Regions from separate parts of the Homo sapiens genome. Here region 2 is linked to region 1. The links come from fine-mapping of genetic effects on gene expression. A gene starts in region 1. The other region holds a variant in brackets. All regions are shown on one strand. Distances are from middle to middle. Region 1 holds the start of ASIC4 (acid sensing ion channel subunit family member 4). Region 2 overlaps ASIC4 (acid sensing ion channel subunit family member 4).

Evidence for each region. PIP is the estimated chance that this variant, and not a neighbour inherited with it, causes the effect.
Region 2: its variant is fine-mapped to the expression of ASIC4 in testis (GTEx, PIP 0.93).

What each region holds. Positions count from the first base shown.
Region 1 is chr2:219,509,491-219,517,805 of GRCh38, reverse strand. ASIC4 (acid sensing ion channel subunit family member 4) reads right to left here and starts at 3,324. Exons shown (of 10, transcript NM_018674.6): 1 at 2,500-3,324. The coding sequence starts at 3,081. It overlaps ASIC4-AS1 (ASIC4 antisense RNA 1), which reads left to right and starts at 720. Exons shown (of 2, transcript XR_923921.2): 1 at 720-1,110. RefSeq lists silencers at 3,226-3,401, 5,805-6,099, enhancers at 4,686-5,327, 7,458-7,602, 7,797-7,846 and a cis regulatory region at 7,522-7,539.
Region 2 is chr2:219,531,801-219,540,115 of GRCh38, reverse strand. ASIC4 (acid sensing ion channel subunit family member 4) reads right to left here. Exons shown (of 10, transcript NM_018674.6): 2 at 8,214-8,315; 3 at 7,988-8,115; 4 at 7,639-7,801; 5 at 7,177-7,233; 6 at 4,792-4,945; 7 at 2,959-3,050; 8 at 2,795-2,874; 9 at 2,380-2,484; 10 at 1,344-2,183. The coding sequence ends at 2,070. It overlaps CHPF (chondroitin polymerizing factor), which reads left to right. Exons shown (of 4, transcript NM_024536.6): 4 at 1-1,162. The coding sequence ends at 733. Among named protein-coding and RNA genes, the nearest start is that of CHPF, 7.9 kb to the left of the region's middle. RefSeq lists enhancers at 1,342-1,897, 1,898-2,452, 7,276-7,873. The variant A/G (reference allele first, on the strand shown) is at 3,710.

The DNA.
Region 1 (8,315 bases):
GGCTCCCCACCAACCAGCTCACATACCCATCTCCCCACCATAGACCCCAAATCCCCATCATTGACTCCAGGTCCTCACCACAGAGCTGATTATGGACCTCACGTCCTTTTTGGAGACCCCATATCTTCATCTCCATGCCCATTCTCCAGTCTTTCCCCTGTAATACACCCCATCTTCCCCACTACCATGGATCATGGGCCCCCAGCCCAATCTGTAATTCCAGACCCTGGTGAATCTGCAGCAGACTCAGCCCTTGAATGCCAGACCCAAGACAGAGTTACACTCAGCAGACGGGGGATGCAGTATGTGCAGAAGAGTAGGAGGCTGGGCTGGAGACAGGGGAAATGGAAATCCCAAAGGGGAATTCCTGTCCCCCAATGCTAGCTATGCCCTCTACCCCCACTGTCCTGCACCAGGGCCAGAACCTCAGCCCACGGACTTCTACCATCCTCCTTTCTCCAGCCCCAGGGTACCAGAGGGCCTGTGGGAAATCCACCCACACTCCTCCAGGCCATCCCCAGGATTCCGGGGACTCACCAGCCTTGATCAGAGGATCCCCGTTCCTGTATCCTCCAGGCACCGCCTCCTAGCCTGGAGACCAAGCAGAACCCTCTGCCTCCCTCCCCTTACTTCCTCACCCCCTCCAGCTCTTCCTCTCCTTTCCTCTCACTGAGGTCTCATCACCCTTCCCCTTTCCTGCCCACCCCCAACTCCCGCTCGGGGACACAAAGATCCCATTGATTTCTGTCCCAACAGCACCTGCTAAGACTGAGCTCTGCCCAGCTCCCAATACGGAGTGGTGAGGATTGAGGACAGCAGAGCCCTATGGATCCCAAAGGCCACACTCACCCTCCATATCCCACCTCCTCCTCGGGGACTCTACCAACCCTTGCTTTGGGGAGCAGTGCTTTTCCCTAGGAAAGGGGGTGTACAGCCGGACAACAGGCCAATGCCCCCGACTCTTCTCCCTGCACAATGCTCCTGCTCCTGTCCCTCTATTTCTACCTAACTCCCCTGCCCAATGGCGGGAGGCCCCAGACACTGCAGGCATGGTGGGGGCCAGGAACCTCGTTGGCTGGAGCATGTTTCCTGGTGATCCTGAGGCAGCGGGTGAGTGAGAACCTGGCGGGGGTCCCTATCACTGGGGCTGGCTGCTGGAGGCTGGGCTGGAGTGGGCACCATGTTGACGCCAAACATTTGCATATGCACTGGGCAGTGGCAACGAGGATGAAACATACACGCATGCACACACAATGCTGGGAGCAAACTGTGGACTAGGGACAAGCATCTCGAGCGCCATGAATACTAGATACCCTGTGACTATGGGTGAATGGAGCCCTGACAGACAGGCAGTGTACAAGACACGCCCACCCCCTCACATACCTGACTGTGGGAGGCGTGCATGGCAGAGCAGCCCAAGCTCACACCCCTCTCCCGGAGAGGGTGCTTGTGTTTGTGCTCACACGTAGGTGACAGATGGCGCCAGCAGTCTCCAAATGGGGAGCAGCGGTTGGGATAGATGGGGGTGGGGGTGTCATGAGAAGGGATGGCATCCACAGTGGGACCCTGTCCTTGGCAGCTAAGCGAGAGCTGGGAGCTAGACATGGAGATGAGTAGCTCTCTGGGTGTGGGTGTGCAGGTGTGCATGTGAGTGTAGTGACAGGGACAGTGAGTGAGAGAGGGAGTGTGCAGGAAACTGTGTCCCCCAGCAGTGCGTGTGCGTGTGTGCGTGTGCATGTGTGCATGCACCCGTGCTGGGGCAGCAGTGAGGGTGAGTTATGCACATAAGAGTGAACCAGTGATTCCCAGTGTAAGAGCCAGAGCTGGGCATGGGAGCCGCTAGAACAGGAGACAGAGGGGGACTGGACCCCAGGAGGGCTGGAGGGCAGAATGAAAGAGGGATGTGTGAGGGAGTCTGTGAGGCAGGCATGTGAGAGACACACAGAGATCCAGAAGAGACACTGGCACCCAGTGTCCTGAAGACCGGGTCTCTCCAGCCTGCCCACCAGGCCAGCTCCCCAGGAGGCCACCCGGGGTCCTTCCCTAGATGGAGCCCCCCAAACCTCCCCTCCCTATCTCCTTCGTTTGGTGGGAAGAATCCAGTAGCCTCAGAAGAAAAAGGGAGCAAGAGAAAAGTGAGAGTCAGTTGGTCTGGCCTTGGGATGGTGCGTGCGTTCCCTGCAAGCCAGCCAGCTCCAGGACACCTGGGCCCATGCCTAGGAACCCCCACCCCAACTCCCAGACCTGGGCACTGCAGCAGCAGCAAAACCAAGAAGAGGAGCAGCAGGCGCCCCAGGGTAAGCCCCTATGAGCGGCCACTGCTCCATGGCTGGGAAGCCAGAGGGAGACGCCAGGCTTGGGGAAACACGAGGCCAGCCTCTGGTGGTGGAATGAAGGGAAGCCCTGTTGAGGATGCCCCTGTACACCACTGCCACCACTCCTCCCCACTCCCCAGCCTCCGGCCATCCAAGGCCAGGCAGCCCAGCTGGCAGAACTCACCACAGAGAAGTTGCTGGCGGAGCAGTGATGCCCACTGAAGTTGCAGCTCTTAAGCATGTCGGCGAGCTGGTGGCCAGTGCGGTTGAGGATGTCTACCATGTCAGGCTCTGGGTAGCGCAGGCCAGCCGCACGGTGCCCATCCCGGTCTTTGGGGGGCAGCCCTGTCAGATTGGCCAGGTGGAAGATGTCGGCATCGCTGAGTGCCGAATGCCGGAAGCGGTTGATATTGCAGAGGGTGACAGCCGGGAAGCCCGCCACTGGGGCTGGGGCAGCGGGGTCCATTGCCACCAGGTGAGGCCGGGTCAGGTAGCCCCGGGCCAGGCCAGCCGCCTGGTACAGGAAGGCAGCCAGCGAGGTGAGTAGGGCCAGTGCCCACAGGGTTCTGCGCAGTCCGTGGGGGCCTGGGCCACAGGCCCGGCCCAGTCCATGCAGGGTGCTGGTGCTGGCAAAGGTGGCCAGGTCTCGGGGGGCTGCTCCAGGGGCAACAGCCCCGAGGAGGCTCTGCTCATCCCCTGCCTCCTTCTCCTTGGGTTTCGCATCCTCCTCAGCAAATTTGATTTTGCACACAATCTCGATCGGCATCTGTCCCCGGCTGCTGGGACTGGCCAGAGCCTCCCTGCCCTGTCCCTCCCTAGCCAGCAGCCCTGGTGCCCTCCCGAGTGGCAGTGGTGGCAGCGGCTGCTCTTCTAAACTCAGGGCAAGCGGGAAGAGGACAGGGACAGGGTGGGGGCCCGAGGTGGGGGAGTCACTCCCACTCCCAGCAGCTCCGCAGCCCTGGTGCTGCCTCTGCCGCTGCTGCCTCTGCTGCCGCTTGTCTCTCTCCTCGATCGTCTCCTTGTGGCTTCCCTTATCAGCACCAGCACAGCTGTCAGCCCCTGCGTGTGTCCCTGCGAGCGAGCGAGTGAGCGAGGGAGCGAGCGCTGCTCCGCCACGCCGCGCAGCCCCAGCCGCTCCGCTCAGCATGTGCTCCGGAGCCCTCCCCACGCTTAATAATTCAGGACATGTCAACAGCGTTTCACCGGCAGCACGGGCGTCAGGAGCCAGGCCAGGGGAGGGGGCAGTCCCCAGCCCAGGACAGAGATCCCAAGACTGGGGCTATCCCCCAAACTCCTGCTGCACCCTAGCCGCTCACTGGGTCCCCAGATCTCCCCACTTCCTGGCCACCCAGGGAAGGGTGCCGTGCCCAGGGTCCTCAGCTCATTCTTTGCCACTTTCCTGGCCCACACCCCATGAAGGGTCAGCCAACTCTATCCCCCCACCTCCTGGCCTCTGAGACTCCTGACTCCAGCACCCAGCCACCACCTGATCCCACTACCCGACTCACAGCAGCTTCCAGAAACTCCTTGAGAGAGCCACTTGTTTGAATGACGGAGGGAGGGGGGCAGAGGAGGGCAGGCTAGACAGACCAGGGGACAACTGTGACTTCAAGATTCTCAGCTTCCCTGGAGCTTTGCTCCAGACTTCAACACCCACCATGCCCCTGCCCCCTCTGGGAGGCTGGCTGCCCTCACCCTCATTTTGCCCCCAACCCCAATCTCAGTCATTCATATGTCTGGGACAGACAGCACCCTGGCCAGCTTGCATATCTGTGGCCACTTTGCTTCCCCAAATGTTCCCCAAATCCCTTGCCACAACCAGGCTTCGGGGGAGGGCTGTTGGGTAAGCAAGCCAGGGAGCAAAGGGGAGGTGTGCTTCCGGGGTGCTCTATATGTAGGGGGACAGGGCATGCAATGGAGGGAGAGGAAGAGCCCCAGTGGGGGCGTGGAAGGGAGCAGGAAGATGTGCTGGGCGTCAATGGGAGCGAATGCTCTCCTAAAGAAAGGGGTTTGAGGGGTGCCTGGCAGAGTGGGGCAGGAGAGCCCTAAGGGGTCTGCTGTGTTCTCGTGGAGGGGAACAGGCATGTGGGCCATCATCATAGGTGGGGGTGGGAGCCTCAGTTGACTGGCCAGGAGGGGATGCATCCATGCCCCCAGGGTGGGGGTGGCAAGAATCAGTGCTTGTGCTCTGGGGCCCCATCCGACAGCATGTGCCCTCACGGGGGAGGAAGCCCTTGTCCCCGGGAGGAAAGGGGGGCTGATTAATCGGGGCGCTAATGAGCAGCAGGGAGAGGAAGCGTGGACGGGCGGGGGGAGGTGGCTCCATCGATCCAAGCCGCAGAACCAGCAGCTGAGAAAAAAAGTGAGAAAGGAATCGATCTGAGGGAAACGGCAGCTGCTGGGGATTAGAGCCCGAGGTCCACCCGCTGCCCAACGGCCACCCCGCCCCCTGCGTCAGGCCTGGCCCCGCAGCCTCTGCCTGGCCCCAGGGGAGGGGCCTAGGGATGGCTCCCTTAGCAGCTGGAAGCCACTTTGCCCACCCTGGCTGCAAGGCCAGGTCAGGCCCCATCAGGGTCACCCCAGCATGGAGCCTGCCCACACACCCAGCCCTGACCATGCGTGGTGCCCTGCTTAGGTTGTCCCTAGCCTTTAGGCAAAGTGGCTTCCCCAGGGACCCCACAGCTGGGCTTCCCCACAAGCCTCCAATGAGTCTGGGTCAGCTGGTTCCCCAAGCTGGGAAGATAAGACCCCTGGGGCAGGGTGATGCATCTGGCTGGGACATAGTGTCCCAGAAGGGAAAGTGGGATTGGCATTGGACAAAGCCGCTGAGTTAGCACTGAAAGTGGCCAAGTGACCACAGACAGCCCCCTCTCTCTGTCCCATGCCCAGGCAGCCGCCTCCTATGCTCTCCCCTCCCTGGTAGACTTCCAAACCTTTCCAGAACTCCCCCCACTGTTCCTCCCCATCCTTCTCTCTCTTCTCCTTTCTCCTAATATTGATTTTTCTTTACTGTTTTTTTTAAAAGGTGATTTAATTGCTTTTTAAGGTTACTTTAGTCTGGGGCTTTGCCAAGAAAGCGGGAAACTGCCCCCCAAACTCTCCGCAGCACTCGTTGCTACCCTGGAGTGCATACATATCTCTAAATTCACCCACCATCTATTGAGATCTTGGGGTCACACTTCCCCGACAACATACTGGCCTCCATCATGAGACAAATCACATCCTCTTTCCTCCTGAGGGTAGGCAGGATGCCTTCAACCTCTATAAGGAAAGAAATCGGGTGGTAACTGGGTATAAGGGGCATGCGGGGGGTGCTGTGAGGGGAGCTCCAGGCTGCCAGGAAGTGGAGCAGCAATTAGCTGCATGCACACCCCCACCACTGCCCCACAGCCAGCTGTCTCCAATTGTCCCCAAGCCCCCAGCCTCCAGTCTCCCAGATCTCCAGGAATCTGGTGATGTTCTGAGGGAGTGCCCCCATACTTCCAGCTCATCTCTTGACCTTTCCCTCCGCTTCTCACCAGGCCCTCTGGCCCCCTCCCTGTCTCTCTATACCCCCTTTGCCTCTGGCCCCGTCCCCTCTCTCCTCCCTCTCCCCGCTTCCCTGCCTGCCTCCCTCTCTGCCCGGCTGCAGTTGGGTGATAATCTCCCTCATTTAGCCTCCCGGCTGCTTCCCCGGCTCATTGCCCAGCTGGTCCCTGGGGCCCGGCCCAGCTTCTTCCCCACCCCCACCCCGGCCCTGCGCCCAAGCTCCCCCACCCCTCCCTGCTTCCCCCACCCACTCCCGGGGGACCAGCTGCCCCTTGCAGTGAGGCATCAGGGACAAGTGTGGCTGGCCAGGCCCTGAGCTGGGTGTGAGCAAAGGGGGCAGGGCTGTTAGGGACCCTGGACTGGGAGTGCCGGGGAGCTGGGTGTTGCGGGGTCAGAATGTGAAGCCTCATCCCAGGTTCCTTTGCTCTCTGGTTGTCCCCATTCCTCAGATTTATTCCCAGTCCAATTCACCTGCCTCCGCCCCCCAGGGGATGAGCTTCCTGACAGTGAGAATGAGTGGTAGATGGACTGGGACGAGGTTTGGTAACAGGGCAGAATGTGGGGGGGGGGCAGTGCATGCAGTCGGGGGGAGAGACAGGGAGAGCAGTGGGTTTCTGGCTCAAGGTTCCTGGGAGGAGGCATGGAGATTTTGTTTGGGCAAAGTGCCCCAAAGGCAGACCCAGAGACCTCCCAGGATCCAACCTGGGGGGTTCCAAGGGTGCTTTCTCAAAGCACAGGAACCCCCAAGCTGATGCCCAGATTCCTTGCCTGGCTGGCCCCATTCAAAAATGCTGTGACCCCCTGAACTCCTAGACAGCATTCTCCAAAAGATGCCCAGCCTCCCTCCCCCTGCACCCAGAGGACACCCTCCCCAGCCCAGACACCTGGCCCTGGTGCGGACCAAGTGATGAGCCAGTGTGGGACAGATGTGGGCGGTAAGGGACAAGGATGGGGGGGCTGGGGCTGGGCTGGTCCAGGCCTGGCTGGTGAGCACACAGCGGTGACAAACGGGCTGTGCAGGGGCCGAGGGGCGGGGGGCGGACGGCGGCTGATTTATCTGGGTTATTTATGCCGCGGACGAGGCAGGAGAAGCGGTTAATGAGAGTCCCAGAGAAGGGGGGTGGGGAGTCCCGAACGTGATCTGAGGCGACTGAAGAGGGTTAGCGTCCCACCGCCAGGCCCTGCCCCCACTGTCCGCCAGTACTCCTTGCACCCCCACCCCATCTTTCTAGGGCCAACCCAGCCCAGCACCTTCTCCCGAGTTTCATACCAACACTTCCCATCTCCTTTCGGGTACTCCCAAGCCAAGGCAACGGGTCCCTGGGACTATAAGGACACCAGGTCCAAGATGGGATGGGGGCATCAGGAGGAAGTGGGGAAGACACCAGGAAAGGGAGGGCAGGAAGATGAAAAATCCTGGCTGGCCAGAAACTAACAAAGTCTGTGGGGCCTGCGGGGGAGGGCTGGGATGGACGCAGCCATCGTGGGAGTGGGTGTGCAGCCGACAACCTCGGAGCTGAGGCTGCAGAGGGCAAAGGGCATGGGGTACAGAGGCGGTGTCAGCCAGTAGCCACAGCGGGGGCCTGAGTGGCAGAGACAGGCTGGCCGGGAGGGGGTGCTGGTCAGAGAGCGGAGAGAGCTGAGGAAGGAGGGGGAGAGGGCTTTGCAGCAGCGAAAGCTGCTGGGAGCAGATAAGGCGGCACAGCAGCAGGAGGGATTAGAGCTCCGAGGGGCATGTGGGGAGCGGTGTGGGAATTGGGGGGTGGGGCAGGGAGGAGAAGGTTGAGGGCAAGACACTAGGGCCAAGGAGATAAGTGGGAAAAGTGAGGGCTGTGAAGACGGCAGGGTTTCATCAGGGGCCAAGAGGTGGTCATCGACGGGGAGAGGAGAGAAGGAATTCCTGATCCTTCTCTCCTCTGTCCTAGGAGAGGGGGACTTTTCTGCCATTGACAGAGCCCCCGCCCCCCACACCCCATGCATGTCAGGGGCAGCAGAGGGACGCACTACCGAGGATCGAGAACGGGCGGATTTGGGGGTGGGGGCAGTGGCAGGGGCCAACCCTAGCAGCTGAGCTGAAGGCTAGACTGAGAACACACAGCACCCCCTTGAGGTGGCCAGTGGAGCACAAGGGTGCCGCAGCGATCAGCGCTGGCACCGAGACCTTGTAGTGCCCAGGCTGTGGCAAAGATCAATTTCAGAGGGGGCTTCTTCATGGGGAGGGGTGTGGGCTTGGAAGGAGGGCAGATGGCTTCCCAGAGATCACCCCTTGAACTCAGACACCCCTCACCACCCCCTGCCCTCCTGCTCTCTGAGCCTCCCAGGATGTACTTGGGGTGTGTGAGGTCCCCCACTCCCTCCACACCAGAGCCCAGGGCAGTTCAGAGGTGGCCATGGCGGCAGAGGGGAGCCTCAGGGAAGGAAGGGGAGCAGGAGGGGCTGGGGAAGGGGAGCGGGGGTGGCAGGCGGGGCCGG
Region 2 (8,315 bases), 22 kb before region 1:
AGCACTGGAGCCTGGTGATGCTGCGGCAGCCCTGACCCTGCTGCTACTGTATGAGCCGCGCCAGGCCCAGCGCGTGGCCCATGCAGATGTCTTCGCACCTGTCAAGGCCCACGTGGCAGAGCTGGAGCGGCGTTTCCCCGGTGCCCGGGTGCCATGGCTCAGTGTGCAGACAGCCGCACCCTCACCACTGCGCCTCATGGATCTACTCTCCAAGAAGCACCCGCTGGACACACTGTTCCTGCTGGCCGGGCCAGACACGGTGCTCACGCCTGACTTCCTGAACCGCTGCCGCATGCATGCCATCTCCGGCTGGCAGGCCTTCTTTCCCATGCATTTCCAAGCCTTCCACCCAGCTGTGGCCCCACCACAAGGGCCTGGGCCCCCAGAGCTGGGCCGTGACACTGGCCGCTTTGATCGCCAGGCAGCCAGCGAGGCCTGCTTCTACAACTCCGACTATGTGGCAGCCCGTGGGCGCCTGGCGGCAGCCTCAGAACAAGAAGAGGAGCTGCTGGAGAGCCTGGATGTGTACGAGCTGTTCCTCCACTTCTCCAGTCTGCATGTGCTGCGGGCGGTGGAGCCGGCGCTGCTGCAGCGCTACCGGGCCCAGACGTGCAGCGCGAGGCTCAGTGAGGACCTGTACCACCGCTGCCTCCAGAGCGTGCTTGAGGGCCTCGGCTCCCGAACCCAGCTGGCCATGCTACTCTTTGAACAGGAGCAGGGCAACAGCACCTGACCCCACCCTGTCCCCGTGGGCCGTGGCATGGCCACACCCCACCCCACTTCTCCCCCAAAACCAGAGCCACCTGCCAGCCTCGCTGGGCAGGGCTGGCCGTAGCCAGACCCCAAGCTGGCCCACTGGTCCCCTCTCTGGCTCTGTGGGTCCCTGGGCTCTGGACAAGCACTGGGGGACGTGCCCCCAGAGCCACCCACTTCTCATCCCAAACCCAGTTTCCCTGCCCCCTGACGCTGCTGATTCGGGCTGTGGCCTCCACGTATTTATGCAGTACAGTCTGCCTGACGCCAGCCCTGCCTCTGGGCCCTGGGGGCTGGGCTGTAGAAGAGTTGTTGGGGAAGGAGGGAGCTGAGGAGGGGGCATCTCCCAACTTCTCCCTTTTGGACCCTGCCGAAGCTCCCTGCCTTTAATAAACTGGCCAAGTGTGGACTTGTGATTCAGAGGTTTTGAAAAGGTAGGCAGGCGTGGGGGAGGGAGGACTGGCTGAGCACCACAGGCTCCCCTGCCCCTGCTGGGGCCTGCCTTTCCTTTCACCCGGGACCAAGTCATGCATGTGCCCAGCCTCACCCCGGCCCCCAGTGCGTGCTTGGTCACACATACACACAGAGAATTCTTTATGCCTCTTTATTCCCAATCTCGTCAGCACTTTATAAAATCAGACTGGAGGGAGAGAGGACTGAGAAGGCTCCCTTCCCACCCTCCAAGCTCAGCCGAAGTCTGGAAGGTCTCCTGCCCCCTCCCTATAGAAGGGACTCTAGGGGTGGGGCTGGTGCAGGGGGAACTGGGAGCTGGGCCAGGCCTGCTGGGCCATCCTCTCCCCCTGCCAAGAGGGGAGCTGGGCCTGGAGAGGGGCAGGAAGTAGGACCAGCCCAGCACTCCTGAGTCCTGGGGCTCTCCCTATCCTGCTGACATTGGGGCTGGGACCCTGGCTGTCCCTAAATCACCCACCCCTGTAGCCCTACCCACCTTCTACATCTGTATCCCCTCCCCCCACCCGGCTTTCCCTAAATATTTACAAATGTACAGAGGGCTCCCCCTCCCCGGCTGGGATGGGCTCTATCCTCCCCCTCCCTCTCCTTCCTTCCCTTCCTCTCCGTGAGGGCCCATGGCCTGGTCTCCAGCCCTCCCGGGGCACCAGCCTGGGGATAAGGGGTGTGGACAAGAAGGACCTTTGTGCAAAGCAGCTGACATCAGGGCAGGGGAGGATGAGAGCAGGAACTGAGTCCTGGCCCTCCCAGTGAGCACCGCCCCCAGGCCTCTCCCAGGAGCAGGAGAATGTGCTGGGGATCCCAGGAGGGGTCCCAGACTCCTGGGTCCTTTCAGTCACAGCACCGTCCTAGCAAGCAAAATCTTCAAAGAGACCTCCTGGGGGACCGTGGGGGTGGTGGTGATTGGGGAGCAGACTGCTGACCCCCCCACCCTCCACTCGGCCCCGGCTCGGGCAGGGACTCTGCAGGAGAAAGAAAAGAGAGAGTGGGACCGGGAGAGCTCAAGTGGTGCCCCCAGGGCTCACACCGCCAGCCTTTCCTTGTCACCTCGGGCAGAGGCTCCAGGGCCCCCTCCACAGGCTGGTTCAGAAACAATGGATGTATTCAGTCCTGGGGAGGTGTGGCTGCATGCTGCAGGCATTTAGAGCTTGTCCTCACCTGTTCCTTCAGCTCCTGAAGCCCCAAAGTGGAGATGCCCCCAGTGGAGGTCCGCAGGGGGGTCTTGGGACGCCTCCATACCCGCTTCAGTCGATCCCAGGACACCTTGGGGTTCAGGGTCGGGGACAGCAGTGGGCTCAGGAAATTTGGTTGAGGAGAAGCGTGAGCCTTACCATGCCCAGCTGCCCACAGGACTTACTGCCACAGCAAACTCCCAGTAGGACACCCTCCTCCTCCTCACCCATCCCCTTCTCCTGACTCTGAGCCCTCAGGCCTGCCAGCCAGTCAGGGGACCCTGGCAGAGAACCCTGAACCTGACTTTCCAGCCAGGCCAGCTCCACCAGGCACCCCGCACTGCCCCCTTCTGCTTTGCCCACGGCCCCCACTCCCACCCTGCCTTCTCCAGGGCCCTTGCCTCATAGATGTAGTCGAGGATCTCCAGCAACGTGAGGATGCTGGCCCCAATGAACAGGCCCATCTGTCCCCCGAGGTCTCCTGGGAAGCAGGAGAGCAGTGTCAGAGGGAGCGGCCGGGCCGATCCACCCCCACACAAGCTGGGGGCAGGGACACCAGTCTCACCCAGCAGGGCTGACAGGCCATAGGCTGCTCGCTGCTCCATGGCTTCAGAGGTCAGGGCCTCAAAGAAGACATCTAGGACCAGGAAGTTCTCCCTGTGGAGACAGGAAGCAGGGTATCCGTGTGGGCCTCTCTTCCTGAGAAGGCTGGCAGGGGCATCCTGGATCCAGCAGATCCTGATCAGAGATCACTACATGGGGAAGTCAGTGACTACCCCCCGGACTCCCCAAGGCTGTGAGGGGAGGCAGTCCCGGATGTGTGTTAGCTTCATCTTTTGAGGGGTAGCAAAGGGCCTGGGAGAGCAAAACACAACTCCTGGACCTGAAGGAAACACTCCTCCCTCCTCTAAAGCAGCCAGTGGTGTTGCCTTTGCCTCCTCCTTACGCCTCTGCGGACCCTTCAGTGACCCCTGTTGCCCGTCAGTCCACTCCACAATGCCCCTTCTCGGTGTCCTGGGCAGCCGGTGGCCTGTCCCCGGCACCTTCCTCCCCAGCCGCCGTCTTTTCTGCTTCCTCCACACAGCTGCCTATGGCTCAGGCTCCCCGCCACACCACCCCACCGCCCCACGTCCTGTCACTGGACGCCTCCCCATTGCCTCCTCTCTCAGACCCCAAACCCAGGGCCCTCAGAGGCCGGCTCACGCCTCCCCAGCTTCACTCCCCGACTGGGGCCTGAGAATCAGTCCTACATGATCAAACGTGGGCTCATTGACAAATTGTGGCATGAGTTTTGTGTCATAATCATCTGTCCCCAC[A/G]GAACCCAGCACTGAGCCTGGCACCCAGACCACGCTCCACAAGTGTAGACTGGCTGGAGGGGACCAGACCCAAGCCTCAGGGCGGTCCCTCCTGCCTCCCCCTGCAGGGTACTGTGTTCCTCTCCTGTCTCATCCTGTCCCTCTCCCTCCGTGCAGGGAAGAAAGATGCATAAGCAAAGCACTCTGAAATGTGGCATATGTGTAATGACAGAGATCTGTACGGGTGCTGGGAACTCAGATGAAAGGTGTTTGGACCTGGAAGCACTTCCCTGGAGGTGGAGACACTGAACGTGACTTGAGCAATGAGTGGGGCTACTTAGAAGAGAAGGGCTGTGGCCAGGCAAGGTGGCTCACACCTGTAATCCCAGCACTTTGGGAGACCAAGGACGGCAGATCACTTGAGGTCAGGAGTTTAAGACCAGCCTGGCCAACATGGTGAAACCCCATCTCTACTAAAAAGACAAAAATTAGCTGGGTATGGCTGTGGGTGCCTATAATCCCAGCTATTTGGGAGGCTGAGGGAGAAGAATCGCTTGAACCTGGGAGGTCGAGGTTGCAGTGAGCCAAGATTGTGCCACTGCACTCCAGCCTGGGCGACAGAGCAAGACTCTGTCTCAAAAAAAAAAAAAAAAAAGAAGGAGAAGAATAGAGCTATGAAGGGCATTCCCGGTAGAAGACTCATCATAGAGATGCGGCCCACTCCCTGCCTCCACCATGCCCAGCGCCTGTTGAGGGCAGCCTCCACCACACACACACACGCACACAGACCCACACAGACATAGACACATTCTCTCACACACATACCCATTCACAGATACATACACTCATAAGTGTGCATGCACACACACATCACACACTCACACACCCACAAGACACACATACATGCCCCCCACACAGACACACACACACATGCATGTACACACCCACATACACCCCACACACATACACACCCACACCCACATACACACAAACACATACACACATACACTCACACACACGTACACACAGAGTCACACAGCCACCCCCCACACACACGTACACACAGAGTCACACAGCCACCCCCCACACACACACACACATACCGTATGTAGGTCTCGTTGCGGTTGTACTTCCTCGCCAGGTACCGGGCTGAGCCCCTGTTGGGGATCCTGACCATGGAGATCTCTTTCCCATAGCGTGTCAGGTTGCAGGGGGTGGGGCAGAAGCACGGGCCCTCAGGGCCCCCACCCAGGGAGTCTGCAACACAGAGGTAGCAGCTACAGTGGGAGTTGGAGAAGGGTGGTCCAGTGGCCCACCAGCTGCAGAGAGGAGGCCCAGGGGCCGTCCTGAGGCAGGCACACCCACACTGAGGGCCTTTACTGGCCAGCCCCAGTGCTTCCTAGAGGGGACTGGCTGCAGGTCCCCGCCTGAACCAGCTTCAGACTGCTCCAGAGAGCAGATATAAGCAGAACCCCCCAGCACCCTCCCAACCCCCTGGGACTGGGGGGGGGTCCTCGTGGCCCAGAGGGAGAACACAGCCCATCCACCAGAGCTAATCAACTATGTGAGGCCTCAGACACACAAGGAGGTGTGGAGAGGATGCTGGGATGCATGCATGGATGGATGGATGGATGGATGGATGGATGGATGGATGGATGGATGGCAGATGGCCAGATCGACGGATGGGCGAACAGAAGAACAAATAGACCGACAAGCTTCCCAGGATCAATGTGCTGGGCTTTCTCTGCCTGCCCCTTCAGATCCACTCTCCACTCTTCAACCTTGCTCTGCACCCTATGAGGCTGATCTCCCCCAAATGCATCAACTAAACTCCCTTGTCCTCTGGCTTTGGGTTCAGTTTGGCCAACAGGAGGCCCCAGCAGAAACAGAAGGTGAGAGGGAAGAGATGCCAGGGTATTTCTCCCGCCTGGCTTTCTCACTGCCAGGCCGTAGGTGGCAGAGGCTGTGCTCCTCCAGCCATGCTGCTGTCAGTCAGCCCTCTCGGACAGCCACAGGTCTCTCTCTCCTCCTGCAGGCCTGGTGGGAATGAAGGCTCCCCATGTTGCTAGCTCTGTGGTCTACCGCTGTGCCTTGCAGGCACCTTACTCCTGATCACATATCTGTTCCTTCACTAAACATCTCCAATCACCCCTGTGACAGATGCAGGTGGTGTGGGGGACAGAGAAGGGCTGGATGTGTGTGGCTGCCCAGTGTCTCAAACCCAGCCCCAAGGCCCCAGGTGTCTGGATTACTGCAGCCAGCTTCGCCAGTCCCTGGCTTTGAGTCTCCTCCCCTCCTATCTCATTGGACTCACCTGGCATTCCTGCCTTGCCACAGGCCTTTGTTGGCTTCCTAGAGCCTCCCTCCTCTTTTTTTTTTTTTTTTTTTTTTTTTTTGAGACAGGGTAACTCTGTAGCTCAGACTAGAGTGCAATGGTGTGATCCCAGCTCACCGCAGCCTCAACCTCCCAGGCTCAAGCCTATCCTCTTGCCTCAGCCTCCCGAATAGGTGGGACTATAGATGTGCACCACCACACCCAGTTCACTTTTTTATTTTTTGCAGAGACAGGGTCTCACCATGTTGCCCAGGCTGGTCTTGAACTACTGGGCTCAAGTGATCCACAGACCCTGGCCTCCCAAAGTGCTGGGTCTACACTTGTGAGCCACCGTGCCTGGCCTCCCTCCTCTACTCTTTCTACTCCCTCCCCTGTTCTCTGCCCTGCAGCCACACAGACCTTTCAGTGCCCCGGACACAGCATGCTCTTTCTGGCCACAGGTCTTCAGTGTATGTCCCCCTTTGCACCTGACTCTTATACACCCATCAAGCCTCAGCTAATGTGTCCCTTCCTCTAGGAATCCTCCCTACCTTCCCAGGCTAGGGCTGCACACCCCTCCTTGGGGCCTTGCAGCACACCCGAGGCTCCCCTCTCCAGGAGTTGACGGGCTGTGTGGGAATGGCTGTCCACAGCCCTGCCGGGGTGTAAGCTCTCCAAGGGCAGGGCTGTCGCCCCCACTCTCACCTCCAGTACCCAGCACAGGCTGTAAAGGTCTGGAGAATGCGCGAATCGATGAATGGATGGATAGATGGATGAACTGCAGATCAGGCAAGATCTGTGGACAGATGGGGTTTGCCTTACCCACACCGATAGCCAGCAATGCATTTTTCCTGAGACCAAGAGAGAAGTCATTTCACTTTCTCAAAGTGGGTGAGCTCATTGGCTGAACCAAGATGAGAAGCCCAGACCTTCACTCCCAGTCCTGGCTTCTCTGCAACCCCCCACCCTGCTGCCTCCACTTACCCAAGTGTCTGTACCTGCAGAGGTCCGCAGACCTCTCCCCAACCCCACTGAAGTATGGGCTAAGGCTCAACCCCCAGGAAGAACCCTCCAGGAAGAGATTGGGAGGGGAGGATCCAAGACAGTGAGGAGAAGAGTGGACAGAGACATGAAGAGGCTGATGGAGAGGTAGGAAAGGGTAGGCAGCACGGACCCAGTGTGTGGTCTGCACACTCGATGTAGATATTTGGTGGGCAGATGGTCTCATTGCCTGAAAGGAGAGAAGATTATTCCTGGAATCTACGATCACTTCCCCTGTCCCCCACACGCCCAAATGTAAGCACATACATGCATGCACACACATATGCACACATTTGCATAAATGTGCTTGAACACCACACACACAACCCCCACAAATACGCAACCACGGATATAAATGAGCATGCACGTACACAAATACATATTAACATGCACACAGGCATCTGCATGCCGGCATTCCCACATGCATATGTGAAACCATGTTTAAAAATCCCAAACACTCACACTCACACGGGTACAGACACATACACATGTTGTATACATGCACCTGCCTGTGCACATGAGCAGTGCCTTGCCCCGGGAGGCTCTGGAGCCTAGCAGGGTGGCATGGAGGGCTGGCTGGGGGTGGGGTGCCCACCTGGCATGTGCACCATCCGGCAGTGGCAGCGCTGAAGCACGGCCTCCTTTTCACAGCGCAGCCGGCAGGCAGACACACTGTAGGCCGAGTAGCCCTGAAGCTCAGGCTCCCTGAGCTCACTCTCTGCGCGGCAGTTGCCCCAGGGCTGGGGCAGGTAGGTCAGCTGCAGAGGTGGGGCATGATGAGGTCATGCTCAGGAATCCCACCCAGTCCTCCAGTGCCCACAGCCCCAGCAAAGTCAACACAGCTGGCAGGCTCTGAGCTTCTAGAGGGCAGGTTTGCTCCACATCCCCTCTGAGCCCAAAGGCGAGCCCTGTGCCCAATCCAGGGCCTAGCAGGAGATGCTCACCCGCTGTTCCTGGCAGGACACAAAGGTCTGGAAGCCTGGGGACACCCCGAACCCCAGCTGGTGGATGTAGGGCGGCTCCTCCTGGCTGTGGATCTGCACCCGAATACCTGCCTCAAACGACGTCTCATCTGCACAGCAGAGATGGGGACCTTTGGAAACCCATCCCAGGCAGAGGGCCCAGGCCCCAGTCCCCAAGGTGGCCCTTGTCCCTTTCCGGCCTGCGTACTTGTCTCCCTCCAGATGGGCAGGTACTCCTCCTGCTGGATGTCCAGCATGATCTCCAGGCCACTGCCCATGCCCCCTGCCCGGCTGGGCAGCGAGCTCCGCG